2 separate regions of the Homo sapiens genome follow, and region 2 is reported to be linked to region 1. Evidence: microRNA targets listed by miRTarBase, many of them from high-throughput screens and not tested one by one. Region 1 holds a microRNA gene; the other region holds the end of a gene's coding sequence.
The links. The annotated mature microRNA hsa-miR-6814-3p reads ACUCGCAUCCUUCCCUUGGCAG and lies in region 1 at 1,606-1,627, opposite strand. An mRNA with a match to its seed (bases 2 to 7 or 8) in the 3' UTR can be bound and repressed. Matches are read on the target gene's strand: a 7mer-m8 pairs with bases 2 to 8, a 7mer-A1 pairs with bases 2 to 7 and ends in A, and an 8mer does both.

Region 2: miRTarBase lists DPF3 as a target of hsa-miR-6814-3p. The part of its 3' UTR that is shown has no 7-base or 8-base seed match.

What each region holds. Positions count from the first base shown.
Region 1 is chr21:41,745,167-41,749,551 of GRCh38, forward strand. It overlaps MIR6814 (microRNA 6814), which reads right to left and starts at 1,675; the gene lies at 1,606-1,675. RIPK4 (receptor interacting serine/threonine kinase 4) reads right to left here. Exons shown (of 8, transcript NM_020639.3): 4 at 3,988-4,037; 5 at 1,447-1,605; 6 at 593-696.
Region 2 is chr14:72,615,344-72,619,728 of GRCh38, forward strand. DPF3 (double PHD fingers 3) reads right to left here. Exons shown (of 11, transcript NM_001280542.3): 11 at 1-4,024. The coding sequence ends at 3,954. It also overlaps a transcript of RGS6 not described here. Among named protein-coding and RNA genes, the nearest start is that of MIR7843, 100 kb to the left of the region's middle. RefSeq lists an enhancer at 3,333-4,385.

The DNA of each region.
Region 1 (4,385 bases):
CTGATATACATATTTCCTGATCTCCTGAGCTCACACCAACAGCCTGGGATTAATCGCCCAACACCAGATAACACGTTATAAAGCTCACTTATCAGCTGGGCCTCACAGGTCTGCTCCAGCCTCATCACCCGAAAAGGCATTTAGCCAGCCCTGCTACTTGGAGCTTCTTATCACATCTGAAATCACCTGGGTGGCACTCATCAGAGTGCAGACCATTTATGGGCAGCTATAAAGGAACTGGATCCCCGAGCCAGGGGTGCAAAGACACTCAGACACCAGCTCTCCCTCCCCGGCCGGGGCTGGGCCTTCTGATCCCCGTGGTCCACACACATCCAATGAGTGGCTATTTAGTGTCAGGGAAGCCCTTCCGCCACTCACGCAGAATCAGACAGGAGGTGGGGCGGGGATGCAGTCGGGCAGGTGGACCTGAGCCCCCATGGGACCTACACTTCTAATGGAGTTGGGTGCGGGATGGGCTCAGAAGAGAGGGAGAGTGGTCCGGGCGGCGGGGGACTCTGCAAAGAGGAGTGGTTTGGAAACTCCTGCCTGGAAGCCGAGGAGACAAAAGACCCCTGTGGGAAGGACTCGTTACCTCGCTCCTGGGCTCCGGGGGGCTTTTCACGTCCAGATCATGAGCAGTTTCTTTCACTTCGTCATCAGGCTTTTCACACAGGTCCTCGGTTTCAGAAGTAATTTCTTGTGGGGAAGAAAGGGGACATGTCACTCGGATGATGACTTCTGCGTACACACGCGTTCCATATAAACGCAGGGCCCCCACGAGCTGGGGGATTTCTCACACGCCTCGGCCCAGCCTGAGCTCACCAGGCAAGCCCAGGGGCCCTACATGGACAATTTGCTGGCCAAACCCAGGCCCCCCCATCGGTAATCATTTGAAGGCCTCACCAGACTCAAGGCGGAAGCCTTCCCCGGGGGAGCGCCACCTGCCAGTCACAGGGAGCAGAGCTGCCAGCACCTGGCGGATGAGCTCCCCATTCAGCCCGTTTCCTGCCGTAAGCTTTAAATGCAGCAGTTTCCATCTCATCAGGGTGACTTTCCTATGCCAGAGACACATCTGTCCCAGGAAGTCAACTCCTCAAGAGAAGGGCGACGCCGCCGGCCACCGGCCAGGTAAGTCCCCGGGAAGAGCATGGCTGCACCTGAACTTCAGGCTCCCATACAGACTCCTCTGGGTGGCAAGCCCAACCCTGGTGGGGAGCAGGGGGCGGATGGTTGGAGGCAACTCAGTTCCAGCTGCCGTGGCCGAGCCGTGAGTACCAGAGGCCGCAGGCAGGTGCTGGGTCCAACCTATCTGTGCAGGGCTCATTTCGGCCCACCTGTTACACGCCTTGTTTCTCACCCAGGCCTGGTCCCTCACCCTGTCCTGTCTGTCACCTCTGTCTCCTGTGACACCCACAGAATGTGGCGGGGAGACCCCGGGGTGCTCACCTTGGAAGGTGGGCCTAACTCGCGGATCCCCCTGCCAGCACCGCTGCATGAGGCGTATCAGGTGGCTGCAGGCGCGCGGCCGGGCTCTGCACACGGGCGGCAGCTCGGGGCGGTGGCCCTTCACCACCTTCACCATGATGTGCAGGATGTTCTTCTCATCTGCCAAGGGAAGGATGCGAGTCAGGGGCTCTGCAGGGCTGGGTGGCAGCATCTCACCCTTGGGAGGAAACGACACACTCGCCGGGGGCCACAATGGGGCCATCCCCACACCACCCCAGGGAGACGGCTCCCCCACTCCGTTTCAAAGGCAGAGCTTCCTGTAACCCTCACCCTCATGGTGCGCCATGCTCTCTAGTTTCCTGGTTTTGAAATCGACCTCTTTCCCTGGGTTCTGATCTACCAGAAGGAGTCAGTGTGTTTGGTCACAGAGCAGATCTTTCTAGGCATCCCATCCAAAGGAAGATGAGGTTCAAAGGAGAACAATATCTTATGAGGCTCATTCCATCAACAGCCCAAGCCAGCAAAGGGAATGAGGCTCACGCACCATGGAGGAGCCACAGCGTCCTACATCCACAGAGACCCAACTCTCTCTACAATGGCGAAGAAGTCTTCCTCAGTTCCAACTCCAATCCCAAGCTCAGGTCCCCAGCTGGCCTCCCCTGCCGGTGCACCAGGGCTGGGATGTGTGGAAGGGCTCTTTCCCCTCAATTCACCATGTGGGGCCGCACCTGTCCTTTCCAACTGCCTTCACTAGCATGCATGGGCTCTAGCTTATTATTATTATTGCCACAACTTCTACCCTGACTGGGAAGGGCCCAGGGTGACATCCAGTGGGCCAAGTTCTTTTTTCTGCTTAGCCTGGAACCCTCAAGGTTCTTGTTCCCAACAGCCCTCTCTGCCCTCCAGATCCAAACACACCCACGCATGGAATGGCAGCTCTTTGGAGAGGCCATGTGCCTCAGCAGGTGTGGAAAATCAGCCGAGAATCACCCACGGCTGCCAGGATTCCATACAATGTTTTGCTCCACTTTCCCATTAAATCTTGTGCAATAAATATCGTTAAGTGTTTAGCAGGCTATTTCCATGATTATTCAGACTTCAAAACCAACAGCTCCTCTAAATAAAATGGAAGCAAACTGAAGTAAACGCCCGGAATGTTTCCTGCTGCCAAGCACAGACTGGAAAAGCTGGGGAGAGGCCTTGTTCTCCTGCACCTTGAACCCCCTCCTACCCATTTTTGCCTGAGGTTGCAATTTTTTGAATTTGAAAAATCAGACCTTGGCGATGACCTTGAACAGTAGGACACGAATAATTCCCATATGATTAGCGTTCCAATAAGGGAACACTAGGCATATTCAGCAATAAAGCACAAGGGCTTGAGCCTTGACCTGTCCCCTGCGCCTAGCTTCGGGTGTCACATCTATCAGACACTGCCTCATTTCACAAGCCTTCGGGCTGTAGGCCACTGTGCGGGAGAACGTACAGAAGGCAAGAAAGGCGACAGGCGGTCAGACAACACAGACGGACACCGGCCAGCAGAGGCCTGGCAGGACGCGTTCTGTGCTTTCTACTGACATTCTTTTAAAGCTGCCAAGATACTTGATCTTGCGATGCTGGAAGATCTCTTCTCACCCCAGCACTTTCCCATACATCGGCTCCTAGTCTGAGCCCCGACTAACAAGGGGCTAGGCCTTGACTCTCATCTTCATTTTTAGACATTTTCGGTCACACCACAAAATATCATGAGTAGCCCAGAAATGTCTTTAGAGGAAAAGGGAATCTGTCCAACAAAGCTAAAAAGTCCTGGATTTTTATGATAAGTAAGTCAAGGTGTGACAACTTTGAGGATGGTGTTCGGAATGGTGGCTGCCTGGCTGGGGAAGCAAACACCACAGCTCTCAAGCTGGGCAGGGGTGCCACTCCTGCAAGCAACTCCATGGCACTGAGCAGCTCTGGAGGTTGGCTGCGCAAGCACGCGGGTACATGTAATGCTCCTGAACTGTATGCTTCACACGGCTGACATGCTAAGTTTTGTTCTGTGTATTTTATGACTATTTTTTTAAAAAGTAAACAAAAAAGAATTAGCTGGAAATACCAGCACAGGCAAACCCCTGGAGACAGAAAGCAGGTGAGTGGTTGCTGGGGCTTGAGCAGGAGGAAGGGCGAGGGACTGCAGAATGGCCATGGGCTTTGCCTTCTAGCATGATGAGAATGTTCTGGAATTAGACAGTGGTAACGCTTGTTCAACACTGCCAGTGTAGTTAATGTCACTGAATTATACACTTTAAATGGCTAACATGACCAATTTTATGTTATATATATTTTACTACCACAAAAAAACTAGCTGGCACCTAAAAACATTCCATTGAACAGGCCCCTTCAGATCTGTGTCTTTTCCTGCATGCAAATTACACCACAGAGCAGCACCTATGGCAGCGTGGATCACAGGCTCTGTTTTAGGATAGAGAAAGGACAACAAGGTGTCCCCCCATTATTCCAGGAAAGACAAGCACATTACACCTCAAAGACAGGTCCACTCACCTGCAAACGGCTTCTTCTGTGTGAGCACGCCCCAGATGACGATCGCAAAGCTGGAAGAGAAACCAGGCACGTTAGCATCTGACAGCCAGAGACTCAAAGCCAAATGCACTCATGCACAGCAACAGGCGTGAAGACACCTGTTCTGAAGCCTTCCAAAGACAGAGCCATGACACCGAGATATTTCTCCTGTTTTTAAAAAGAGAAAATTCTCTATAGTGAAGCCCAGCATGTTGATAGCTCAGATGTCAGACAGACTCAAGTAACTTCGCCAACTGGGCTACAATCTTCAGGCAGCTTGAGGGACTTCCAAAGAGGGTGCCACCCTATGCGGGGCGTGAGCTCCTGGGGAACAGCGCCTGTGTGCCTCACTGATATCTTCTCGCAAGCACCAGGCACAG
Region 2 (4,385 bases), not on the chromosome of region 1:
AAAGAGCACAGGTCTCCTCCACTTGCCCCGAAAGGAAAAGTAATAACAATCATCTCATTTTTCTTCCTTAAAACATCAAAACTTTTTAAGCGGAGGGTTGAAAGGAAGCGGGCTGTATTCAAAGCACGAATACAAAAATGCACCAGGAGTGTGCAACCCTCCAGGGTATCATGAAACCATCACTGTGAAACCCAAACCCTCCCCCAACTTCAAAACCTGTTCTCTTCCCCAGTTCTGGAGGAATCTGGCCTCCTTCCCTCCCTTCCACCCACCCACAGGCTCTTCCCTGGTTCCAGTCGGCTGGGCTCAGCCTGCCCAGGCTTCCGGCTTCCTACCTCGCCCTGGGGCAGGGACAGGAGCAGGGGAGCCTTGGGACCTGCTGGCTCCTGCTTCAGGGGCGATGAGTCAGTGAGGGGTTCCAAAGGAAAGCCAGAATGTCAATCTCCTAGCAGGAGCCCTGTTTCTATTTCCACATAATGTTGCCTGCACTGGATTTGCTACAGATCCAAAAAGCAGGGTTTCAAAAATGCCTACAGGAAACAGGATTTCCACTTCCGGTTGGGTCTGGCAGCCTCACCTCTCTGGTTTGCTGGAGCCACAGTACAGAGGGGTGAAGCCCAGCAAAGTTCTCCTGGCTGTTCCCAGCATTTGAGCCGGAAGACAACCACATCATTATCTCCATTTGGTGGCCTCTGCAGAAAATGACAATAGCTACCATGGAGTGGGGACCATCATCATGCCAGACCCGGGCCAGGATCTTTACCAATGTCACCTTGAATACCTGCAAAGACCATGCTGGATAGGCCATGTTTCCCCACCTTACAGACATGTGAAATGAGGCTCAGAGAGTTGAAGTCATTGGCCCAAGGTCAGTCAGCTAGAAAGTGGCAGTGTTGGTCGGAAAGTGAGCGTTACCCATGAACTGAAACAAATCATAGCCCTCTCTAAAAGTCACCTTTCCATTCTCAACTGCATTAATCTTATAGAAGGAGTATCCTGAGTACCTTCATTTTAAAGTCCCCAACCCCATGTACATCCCTCACCTCCACCCCACAGCCCATGCAAGTCATGATTTCCTTGGTCGCAGCCCAGCCCTGGCAATATAAACTCCCTTTGGTCACAAGGGAGATTTGAAGAAGACGTCTAACATTGGCTAATGCACACAAGAAGGCGGACATGGAAAACATCCGGAGTTCTTCCCAGACAAGCATGGCTCTGCAGTGCTTGTTTATGTAACATGATGCTTAAGAGTCCCAGTGTCACTCTGGAATAGGCAGGGCAAGTGTTACTATCTCCACTTTCCAGGTGGGCAATTGAGGTTCAGGGAGGTTAGGTGACTTGCCCAGTGTCACACAGCTACTCCATGGCAGAGGCAACACAAAAACTCTGATCCTTCACATGCATCCTATGATTCTATCTCATTCTCTGGGGTTCAAAAAAAAGAGACCAATTTAAAGTTTACCAACCCCGTCCTCTTTTGAACACAGAGGTGATAAATGTGACCACGGAGACTTTTGTCTGCTTGTAGTACCCTGACAGTGCCAGCCCACAAGCTGGCTTGCTATCCCCGCTTTCCAGATGGGGAAACTGAGGCCTCCAAAGATGAAGAATGGGTTGGGCCCATTCTTCAGGGAGTAATGAAGCTGAGAGGGGAACTCCGGGGCCATCCTAACGTCACTCCAGAGCCCTGACCCTCACCAGTGCAGGCAAGTTCCAGTGCCCTGCCTTGGCCTGGGAGACCCAGCTGAGGCTCAGCTTGTGTAGGCAGAGCAGACATGGGGCTGAGATCGAACAGGGCTGCCCTATCACCTGCACTTCTGTGGAAAACAAATTTGCACATACTCTGAAGAGGACGTGTGAAGTTGTAGAGCCACAGTTTGGGGTTTCGGACTTGCTTTTTAAACTTTTAAGCTATTGTGGCACTTGGGAACATTTGGGGAACTTTTTTTTCTAAATTTAAATTAAAATGACGCTCAAAACCAATTATTAGCCTTTGGAGACAGCCTGCTTTGGGTTTTGTGGGAAGAGAGAGAGCTGGAGTAGTCAGGAGAAAAAATGTGCCCCTCTGATGGAATGTCACCCTCCCTATCCCTCCCTGGGCCTTCAGGATTCAGACAAGCTCACCGACCAGCAGGCGGAAGGAAATTACTTATGAGGAAGATGAAAATTCCATCCGGTCGGGGGCCCTTTAAATGAGACCATTATGTATGTGTGTGATTCCCTCTGAGGCCACAGGCCCCTGCAGGAGAGTGACCCCCATCGCTTGCCACAGGTCACTCTGCTGAAGCGTGGGGGAGACCCACACTGCTTGGTTTCATGCCAGGCTGCCCTGGGTCCACTGGCCAAGAGCAATTAGCCTAGAGAGGAGCACTCCTGCCGAGGGACAGCACAAATACTGCGGCCGGGCAGAGGTGGCCCAACTAGCCCGAGTCTCCGGGAGCGTCCTCAGGAGCTGAAGAACTAAAAATAACCTGGGCCTTTGTTGTGAGCAGCCAGACCACAGAGATGGAGCTGATTTCAGAGAAGCCAAGCATGCGCGAGGGTTCCGCTCACCGAGACCTGCCCTTTGGGCAAATGATTTTTCCAGAAATATGTCAGTTATTGTGCTGCTGCTGCGATTCAAAGTCAGCCCAATCCGCTCCAGCCCTCGGGGCTATCTTCCAACACACAGAGTTCTCGGAAGCTCAGCCTCCCCACCTCTTTCTTCTAGACACATTTTTTTTTGAAAACAAGAGTCCTGCATGTTTGGGGAGCTTAGGAGACAAGAGCAGCCCCCGCACTGAGAGTTCTAAAATGTGGCCACCCTGGTCGTGAATAATGACCATGTCACCCTAATTATTTGTTTAGATAACAATCTTCTCTCCCCCATCCTAAAATTCCCAGTCAGGTCTCAGTAGACAATAGCGAACAAACACTACGTGGAAGGAAGAAATTACTTGGAAAAAGGAATTCAGAGCGTCGCATCAATACTGAAGGTTTCTCAAAGCTGCAGCCCCCTGTATCCAGCATTCGGACACATGATTGGGCAGCCTTCGCTCCCCTTCCTGGTTCTTCAGTCCCACCAGGAGAAGCTGAACCAGGTCTCCAGAACCAGGTGGGCTGAGAGGCAGAGGCTTGACCGTCTTCCTCTGTCCATAGGCCATGACTGGTCTCACCTAAAGGATGCCCCAGCTCTGAAGGTCAAGGAACCAGCCTGGCCTCTTGCAAAGTCTCTCCCGATGGATAACAAGTACTGACTGGCTATGGCGGGGCCTTGGCACCATTTCCACAATGTTTCCTCCCATGTCTCTGCGCGTCTCCCTCCCTCCCCGCCCCCATCTAGTAACTTTAAGCAGTGGCTCAAGACCAGGCTGGCTGTGGATGCCACTGCTGGGGTTCTAGAAGGCAACTCTTTGTCTCCACAGACACCAAGGAACAAGAAAGGGTTTCAAGACCCCAAGTCTAGAAGTTTCCAGTGAGGCTTGCCATAAACGACAACTTCTCCACAGCCCTTTGTTCCTCAGGTGAGAATTTCAGGATGCAGACCCTAAGCTGGGGGCACGGGGGCTGTGCCAAGATTTCTTGGAACACAATAGATAAAAAAACACCACACTACACACAAGTAATGGATGAGTGGTCAGGAAATGGCTTCCCTTAAAATGGGAACCAATGAGAGGGCCTCGGTGCTAGGGTAAAAGTGAGAGGGGTTCCACAGGGCTGGGGCCGGAGGTGTTCTCCCAAAGTGCAACTTCCTTCCGGTAGAGACAAGGAGGTGCTGGCTGAAGTTCCGTACATATCGGGGGAGGTCAGGAGATGCCTCACCCTCTTCGTTCCATGTGTCCCTGCCCCTCTGGGACTATTTCTTTTCCTTGCAGTTGGTCTGGCTGGATATGTGGGAGGAGGGCGCGTTCTGGTTTGAACTGGGCTCTGCTTTAGGATCTCCAGCAGCGAGTCACATTCTGTGACCTGGGGCCCTAGGCCTGGCAGCCAAAGGCTGAGGCTTTCTCTTTGAGCAGTTCCCAGCATAAGTGGCAGCTCCAGCTTCCTGCAAGAAATGAGACGGCTTTAGTAGCAGCCCCTCTGCTAACTCTGGAGCCCCACCCCACTGGCCCTAACTTCTTGTAAATCCTGTTTCCTTTGAACTTTGGCAATGCAGAAACCAAGTCCCAGGCCTGAAAACGTGCCAGAGTCTGTGGCTCAGCAGAAAGCAGGTGCTCAGAGGAGATGGGCTCAACTCTTATCAAGACCCTCACTACTAGCGTCATGCCTCCAAACTAGTGTCGCCGGGCCTGCGCCAGTTCTCCTGGAAGCTCACACCTCCCGGTCATCTCCACTGCATGTCTGGGAAAAACTTCCTTGGCCCTCAAGTTGAAATTTCAGCTGCTTGGACTGTGCCTCAGTTTCCT